Linked DNA regions of Homo sapiens: region 1 is linked to region 2. The links come from fine-mapping of genetic effects on gene expression. A gene starts in region 2. The other region holds a variant in brackets. All regions are shown on one strand. Distances are between the middles of the regions. Region 1 has its middle 130 kb from the start of KITLG. Region 2 holds the start of KITLG (KIT ligand).

What was found. PIP is the estimated chance that this variant, and not a neighbour inherited with it, causes the effect. A credible set is the group of variants that fine-mapping cannot tell apart.
Region 1: its variant is the best candidate, but not a certain one, in a credible set for the expression of KITLG in monocytes after R848 (Quach 2016, PIP 0.84).

Annotation. Positions count from the first base shown.
Region 1 is chr12:88,450,708-88,455,106 of GRCh38, forward strand. No RefSeq gene overlaps it. Among named protein-coding and RNA genes, the nearest start is that of KITLG, 130 kb to the right of the region's middle. The variant A/G (reference allele first, on the strand shown) is at 2,517.
Region 2 is chr12:88,578,317-88,582,715 of GRCh38, forward strand. It overlaps KITLG (KIT ligand), which reads right to left and starts at 2,155. Exons shown (of 10, transcript NM_000899.5): 1 at 1,948-2,155. The coding sequence starts at 1,962. It overlaps LOC105369885 (a long non-coding RNA gene), which reads left to right and starts at 2,220. Exons shown (of 4, transcript NR_188177.1): 1 at 2,220-2,294; 2 at 3,681-3,822. It also overlaps the pseudogene RNU1-117P.

The DNA.
Region 1 (4,399 bases), 130 kb before region 2:
ATGATACAGGCATCATACATTACATGCCTTCCGGAAGTGAGATGTGACTCTCATACATGTAAGCCAGTCTTCTAAAATGATATTCTGCATTTTCTGGATCACTCTGCCTGCTCATCTACTATCAGTGCAGCATCGGTCAGCACCCTACCAGGATAAATGGAGTTTATAAAGGATTTCTGGCCTCACTCAGAAACAGCTGGACAAATGAGTTTTACGAACTCATCAAAGATCCGTAAGCAATTTATATAGGAACTTCAAATTAGCTGATAAGCACTTTTATTTTTGGTCCTCGTTTATTTATTGCCACTTCACACTGATCAACTTCAACTAAAATGTTGCTGTTTTGTGGCAATCTTCTAATCATCATTTGTGTAGTATTCTGAAGTTGGCAGGGTATCGAGGACTCAGAGTTCAATACTTGAATTTTACATTTGAGGAATGTAAATGGCTAATCAAGAGCCATCCGCTAAATTCAAGTTAGAACTGAGAGCCCCGGACTCTCAGTTCATCGCTCTTTTCTCTCAGCTAGGCTTCCCTAGAAGGCCATTTCAGATTCCTTTCCTCTACTTGAAATTTAATCTTAACTCGTAGCATATACTCACTCAGCATTTAGCTGAGTGAGATCTTTCAAGCTGGGTCCAACTTGTGCGTTTCTTCCAGTCTTATCTCAATATCTCTCTGGCATTTTGTGTGTGTGTGTGTGTGTGTGTGTGTGTGTGGCCCTTCTTAATGTTTTCTCCTGAATTCCTGAAGCAAATTCCTTCTTTAATCATTCTCCTTCTTTTGGGGCATCTGTACTCTCTCTCAGCCAGTTTCTTCTCTCCTGCTTACACATATACCTAGGTCTTTCCTATTTTTATATAGTGGACATATTTTAATGTTTTAAATAAAATTTATTGTACTGTCTGAGCTTTCAAATTCTTTTTCATTCTCGGGGCAGCTTTGCTCAGAAATGGTTATTGCAGATCATTTATTACTCACTGCTTTTCTTTTTCTTTATTTAAAATTTTAGATTCAGGGGTATATGTACAGGTTTGCTACATGGGTATATTATGTTATGCTGAGGTTTGGGGTATGGACCCCGTCACCCAGGTAGTGAACATAGTACCCAATAGTTAGTTTGTCAGCCTACATCCCTCTCCCACTCTCCCTGCTCTGACTGTCTCCAGTTTCTATGGTTTCTATCTTTATGTCCTTGTATACTCAATCTTTGGTTCCCACTTATAAGTGAGAACACGTAGTATTTGATTTCCTGTTTTTACTTTTCACTTTTTTATGGGATTTTTTTTGTCATTCTGTGACACTCTTTTTCTCTTTACCCCTTTTCCTGTTGTTGATAAGAAATATCCTTGTATTCTTAATAGCTAGCATAGTGCCTGGCATATGCTGAGTGTTCTGTAAATTTTTTAAATAAATAAATGATTAAAATAGTAGAAAAATTATGATAACCCTTAGGAAACCTGACTCTTCATTAAACATGCTTAAATAGGAACCAGGCTATGTGTACAAATATAAACATAAACATACATACAAAGGAGGAGCTCAGAAGCTTTTTATGTGCTCACTATGCATTCATCTGTTCAAAGCCCCTTACATGTTATTGTCTCATTTGATAATAATAATAGTTATTATTATTTTAATGGTGACTGCAGATAGTGCTCAGAATGGGTTAGGTACCATTTAGATCACATTACTGTGTATTCACAAGAACTCTATGTGGTAGGCACTTTTTTACCTTAACAGAGACACAGAGAGAAATAGCTTTTGCATTTACACAGCTAGTGAGTAGGAGAGTGAGGACTTGAACTTATGCATTCTGACTCTAGAGTCTATACTCTAATCACTCTTATCACCCAAGGTCTCACAAGTAGAGTGGGTGTTCCAAAGAAAGCATACTCTGTATCCTACTCCAAGGACCATTTCCCTAAAACATCTTCCTTTCCAGCTTCCATGGTAAGTGACTAAATTTTTTTATTATTCAGTGATAATCTTTACAGAAGGGACTTAAAGAACTGAAAAATAAACCCTACAAAGGTATCATGCAAAATAAAAATGATATAAAGCTGTAATCAATCATTGACATTTTAGCATAAAATTATTTATCAGATAAACATTATTGGTCCTTGACTCTTAAGGAAATTGGACATGAGACAGACAGTAAGTCAAGTTTTGAAATTTGGACAAATTAAAAAGCCTTTGAATCTGCTACCATCAAAGTACTCTATACTGTGTGATTACTTCTGTCTTGCCTGATTATGCCTAATTTTGAATATATTCATTTTATTTTAGATTATATATTTCACTTTGCATCATATCATTGGGACCAATGATTTCTTTCTTTAGCTCAAGCTGCATATCTTAAGAAGTATTATTAATAAGCATAATTTAGACATATTTCTCTCACCTGAAGAAATAATCTCCAATTTTATAGTATAAGTCTAGTGGGAAAGCTGTGTCTAATATAGAATTTTGCTTTAGCAATTACTTTTATTTACATCTTGTTTCAAGACACAGCC[A/G]TTGAGCTAGGTATTCCTGGGTGACAGCCAACCTCTAATTTTTATTTATTGCCTGCGCCAACTTTGTGCTTTTTAAGCTTCTAATAAAGAACACTTGGTTTAAGCAATTTTGTAGTCATCCCTCATGTATGGGACCTCATGTAACATGTTTTGTAATGACATACATCATCTTTTATAATAAAATTTCATCTTATGAGTCTTTCAAGTAGTAAATCCCTTTTGATTTCTCAGCAGGATAAAGTTCTACATGTATATTATACATGAATCATCTGTTTTCTTTAGCAATTCACTGATCTCATAAAGCATGCATCTGGGTAAAGAACTACTGAAGATTTAAACCTCCTTTATTTGGATGAGATATGTATTGAAAATGAAAAATTGTTAAGCTAACAGTAGCAAATTCCATGTATTTGGAAGAGTGATTTCATCAAGCTTTTCTCTAATCCATTGGATTTTAAAACAATTCATAGTTACTTAAGAGTTTACTTAAATAGTAACCCTCAGACAGCAGAACTTTCTCTGGAAGCCTCCCTCAGGAAATAGTCTTGTGTGTTCTCTTCCTTGAATAAAACTAAATGGCAAGATTAGGCAATGGATGGATACTTTCTAATTGTTCACTTTTAGAATGCTAGAACTCACGTTAATTTCAGAGGAACTTCAACTTTCATTTTTCAAGACATTATTATAGAAACAGAGCATTTGGTGAAATGTTAACAGGATATCAAATTATGGATCTTCCCATTTGGAAGTGTTATTAGCCAGAGTTCTCAAGAAAGAAAGAACCAATAGGATGGGTGAATAGATAGATAGATCAGTGAGAGGGGATTTATTGGGGGAATTCGTTCATGCAATTATGGAGCCAGAAATGTTCTACAATAGGCCCTCTGCAAGCTGGAGATCCACGATGCTGGTAGCGTGGCTCAGTCCAAGTCTGAATGCCCTGGAACAAGCAATGCTGTAACTCAGTTTGAGGCCAAAGACCCAAGAACCCGAGTATGGAGAAGCACTGAAGTCCAAAGGTCAGAGAGCCTCAGGTTCTGGTGATGTCCAAGAGTAGGAGGAGAAGGATGTCTCAGCTCCAGGAGACAAAAAGAGAGAAAAATCATATTTCCTCTGCCTTTTTTGTTCTATCAGGCCCCTAGCTGATTGGATGGTGCCTCCCCACATTAAGGGTGAATCTTCCCTACTCAGTTCACAATCACACACACCTATCTCCTCTGGAAACACCCTCACAGACATATCCAGAAATAATGCTTCAACAGTTCTCTAGGTATTCCTTAATCCAGTCGAGTTGACATCTAAAATTAACTGTCACAGGGAAGTTAGGCCAAGATCCCAAAGCTGAGAACAGTAAGTGCCAAGTACTCCCACGGTTAAGGCAAGATGGGCCATTTATAAAGGAAGTGGCAAAAAAAAAAAAAATGTTCTGCCAGTGTTGGTTCAGATTGTATCAAAGAATAATTCAGTAGGAGGTAAGGGATGGGAGGGTGTCTTAGATCTGGCTGTTACAACACATTACAATAGACTGCGTGACTAAAGTAACAAACATTTATTTCTCATGGTTCTGAAGGCTGGAAGCCGGAGATCAGGGTGCCACCACAGTTAGGTTCTTGATGAGGGTCTTCTTCCTAGTTATGTTTTTGCATGGCCTTTCCCTGGTGTGTGCATGCAGGAAGAGCTCTCTCTTTCTTCTTCTTCTTTTTTTTTTTTTTTTTTTTTTTTTGAGATGGAGTCTTGCTCCATCACCAGGCTGGGGTGCAGTGGCACAATCTCGGCTCACTGCAACCTCTGTTACCCAGGTTCAAGCAATTCTCCTGCTTCAGCCTCCTGAGTAGCTGGGTTTACAGGTGTGTGCCACCACGCCCAGCCAACTTTTGTATTTT
Region 2 (4,399 bases):
TACTGCCCTCCTTTGCCTACAAGCCGTTTAACATCAGCAAGTTCCCCCAAAGGGCCTGCACTTTAACTTGTGTGATGTGTGACCGAACAGGTCACATATCTAAAATACTTAGCTTTCTCAAATTTCTCTGGTCGGCAGCACTGAGTCACTAATGCCACAGTCACAATGTTTCAGACTAGATTGACCTCTTTCTAGTTTTCAATGGAATTATTCCATGTAATCCGATTTACACAGCCATTTAATCAAAGCGAGAAAGGAGATTACAGAGCTCACATTTGTTTTGCAAAGCAAGGGTGCAAGGATAATCAATCCTACTGCCTCTCAAAGTGACTTGATAGTACATCCCCTGGCTTTGGAGTGTTGGACATTAACCTTATCTGTCTCCTGTGTTCTTGTTTAAATAGGAAGGTTTAGGCTCTTTTCCTGAACTAGAAGGTAGCAGCTTCTTCCCCCAGATCTCACCACCATCCATGGGAGCAGATGCTACTATAAGAAGGAATAGGTCTCTACCCTTCTTATAATTTCGCAGAAAGCTTGTCTAAATCAAGAGATTACAATAAAACTTTTCTTTTGTTGCAAGAATCTTTAACATTTGCATTTCGACAGCACGCTGTGGTGATTCCAGGTGCGGTGCTCAATGCCTTGCCTGAAAGCTAACCTGCTTGTAAGAGAGGGGAGAGGCACATCGCGTCTTTTCTCTTAGAGAGTGCTCTAGAGACTATGCAAGCCTCTTTTAGCCAGGCAATGTCCCTTTCCCCTGCCTTTTACCACACCGGTACAAGGGGCTAGAGTCTTGCAACTTTTTGCAGGCCTAGATATCTGTTTAAAATATGATGCTAAGCAGGTCATTTGATAAAGCATTTTGAGCACATTGATGCCTTCATTCTACACCAACGATGTGTACAAACACCCCGGTTTCCTTTTTCCCCACCACTTCCACCCCTTCCACACATTTCAGGAACTGCAATCTCCAACAGAACCTCTGGGGGGTGAAAGGGCAACCCTTAGCCAACCGCGGCAGATAACACATAACAATTTCTAAGGGGGAAAGTGAGAGGAGGTAACAATCAACAATGGTGAAGAGAACTGTGGATAGGGGCACCGTGGCGGCCCTTTCTAAACGAAGAACCAGGTATTTTCTTCAAGGGAAAAAAAAATCTAATTGTCCCCCCAGGCAGCGCTTTACCCACAGTGCTTTATGTATAATGCAGAATTTAGCAGCACTGGGAATTATCTCAATCACTATCATTCAGAGGTGCCTATTTTATAAAAAGCCTTTATCCCTTTTGAAATGGAAAAAGGTGCGTGCATTGTGGAGGTACTAGAGCTCTTTAGAGCCCACACAGAGCTGCAAACTAGGCAGACACCGCCGAGAGCCAAGTTTCCCGGGCAGGCGGGCAGGTTCCCGCCCCGCCGAGAGCTGCCGCTTAGGAGTTCCGCGTTGGCTTCGCTCCCGCGGCTGCACCCGCGTTCGCGCCGCTCCTGGTGCCCGGCGCCCACCTCGGGGCTACACAAATAAATCTGAGTGAGAGAGCTAGTGAGGGTGGCGCGTGGGGTGCTGTTTCATAATCTCCTGGAATCCACGGGAAAACCGTCTCCTATGCAAAGACATGCCTTCCCGTGATAACTTAACATTCCATGGCCCAAAAGCCAATCTTTCCACCAGACGGGAATTACGGTTTCCGACTGACAGCTCAAAACTTAACTGCTGAGGCTCCAAACTTGACACTGGCTCCCTCTCAGCACTCCCACTCCTTTTCTCCCTGGCTCACCCGGCTCGGCTCGGGATCACACACCACGCCGGCCTCCCCCGCATCCTCTTGTCTCACCCGGCAGGCACAGCCCTGCACGCCCCAGCTGCAAGTCCCAGGGAGCGCCGGCTTCCCCGGGGCACCGGGCGCGATTTTTCCTGGAGAGCCTGGGAGCTCCCGGGCGCGCCCTACTCACTTGTGTCTTCTTCATAAGGAAAGGCAGCGCTGCGATCCAGCACAAACAGTGGTGTGGCGACTCCGTTTAGCTGTTCTGGAGCTCCAGCATATTGCACGAACAGCGGCGGCAGATAGTCCACGCATTGGGTAGCCCGAGCGCAGCGCCCTCTCCACTGTCCCTGCTTCCCGCAGCGCTTCTAGTCTCGGCGCGAGGCGGCGAGCGAAGCCCGGCTGCTGAGCCGCCGGCGCTTTTATACAGTTCCCGCCCGCCTGCTCCGGACACGCCTCCTTCCCTTCCGGAGCCCGGGGTAGGCGAGAAGCAGGCAAGGGCGCGGAGGGAAGAATCGGGAGGGCGGCCAGAGCACGGTAAATGCCCCAGAAGTTTGGCAGATTAGGCCAACCTTGTCCGCTCGCCTGGGGGCCCCGGACCTGCACTGGCGGGAGACCGCGAAGGCGCGGGGACGCAGAGGGCGAAGCTTGGTACCCTGCAGCTACTGCTCGCGAGGAGTCCCAGCTTACCCTCCCGGATCCGCTGGGGCTCACCTGGCACCCCCGGGGACAGACGAAATACCTCGCGCGCCAGAGAGGGCTCGGAGCTCCCTCTGTTATACAAAGTCGGAGAGGGAGAGGAGTCCGGGAGGTTCGGAGCAAAGAATTCACCCTGCCTGCCTTAGAGAAATAAAGTTTAATTGCGATCTGTAGTTAGGCCATTGTCCTATCACCTCTATTTTTTAAAAAAAACAATTACTTTAGTGAATGAATATTTAATAATTACAAGAATTGTTGACTCAAGGTTAAGTATTGCAAGGGGAGACGCTTCATTTGGAATGGTTTGTTACTGTGTCTTTAGAAATTAAGATTGAAAGAGAAGCGATAGATTATTAAACTACAGGTCGCCAACACAGCAAGGCTTTGAAAGTTGTACTTTTTTGAACGGAAAGATAATGCAACCACAATAATAATAGCTAACATCATTATGTGATGCACTTATTCATGTGCCAGGTGCCAGACTAAGAACTTCGCATAGATTATCTCATTAAATTCTTTCATCAAATCTATTAGTGTAGATCTTATTATTTTATTCCCATTTTATGGACGATGAAATACAAGGTTAATTTTCTTGACCAACCATATCTAGTAAATGGCAGAGCTCTAATTTAAACCTGGAGCTCCAGCTGTACAGTCTTAAAAAATACTTCAAATATTTTATTGATTCTCCAGAATGTGTCTGTTTTTGTTTGTATAACTGGAGAACATTCCAAAGCATTTCATTAATTTTTTAAAAGAAAATATTAGCTGAACATTAACATCAGTGATCTTTAAAAGAAAGAATAATGTATGAGTTTAGGAATTAGTTATTTTAATAATAGAGTAGGAGTCCAAATTTGCTTTAATTAGTTCCGGTGCGTTTGTTAAACATGAATATGCCAAACCTGTAATCAGGGCGAAGCTTGTTTATTTCACTCCAGATGTGCTGACTTCTGTGATTTCCCCAAATGTGGGAAACTCGACTGCATAATTTAGTGGGGGACTGCGTTCTCACTTTCTCATGTTAGAAAAAATATGTATAGACAGCACATCAATCATGATTCCAAGTTGATAGTTGCTTAGAAAGATTTTTATACATTAGGTACTCTTAGTACAAATATATCGAACATCAAATATCAAAATGAGCTTAATTTGGATACTGGAGGCATAGCAAATGATTGTTTTTTTTTTCTTCAAGATTTATTTTTATTTTTTATTTTTTAGATGGAATCTCGCTCTGTCTCCCAGGCTGAAGTGCAATGACGCAATCTCGGCTCAATGCAGCCTCCGCCTCCCAGGTTTAAGCGATTATCCCGCCTCAGTCTCACAAGTAGCTGGGATTACAGGTGCCCACCACCACGCCCAGGTATTTTTGTTGTTGTTGTTGTTGTTTTAGTAGAGACGGGGTTTCACCATTTTGGCCAGGCTGGTCTCGAACTCCTGACCTCAGGTGATCCGCCTGCCTCAGCCTTCCAAAGTGCTGGGATTACAGGCGTGAGCCACTGCACCCGGCCCCTTTAAGGCTTTTTTGAAGTGGAGAATTTTATTTTTTTTCTCCAGCTTTATTAAGTTATATTTGACAAAAATAGTATCTATTTACCACGTACAATGTGATGTTCTGCTTATGTATACATTGTGAAATTATTAAATCAGGCTAAATAGTATATCCATCACCTCACATACTCATCATTTTTGGGAGCTGAGAGTATTTAACATCTACTCTTTGTAGTTTTGGAGTACCTCAGTATATTCAGGGGATTGATTCCTAGACCTTTCAGGTATACCAAAATCTACATATATTCAAGTCCCACAGTCAACCCTGCAGAACGTGCAGACACAAAAGTCAGCCCTGCTTATACATGGGTTTTACATCTCTAGAACACTGTATTTTCCATCTGAGTTTGAAAAAAAAATTGCATATAAGTAGACCCATACAGTTCAAA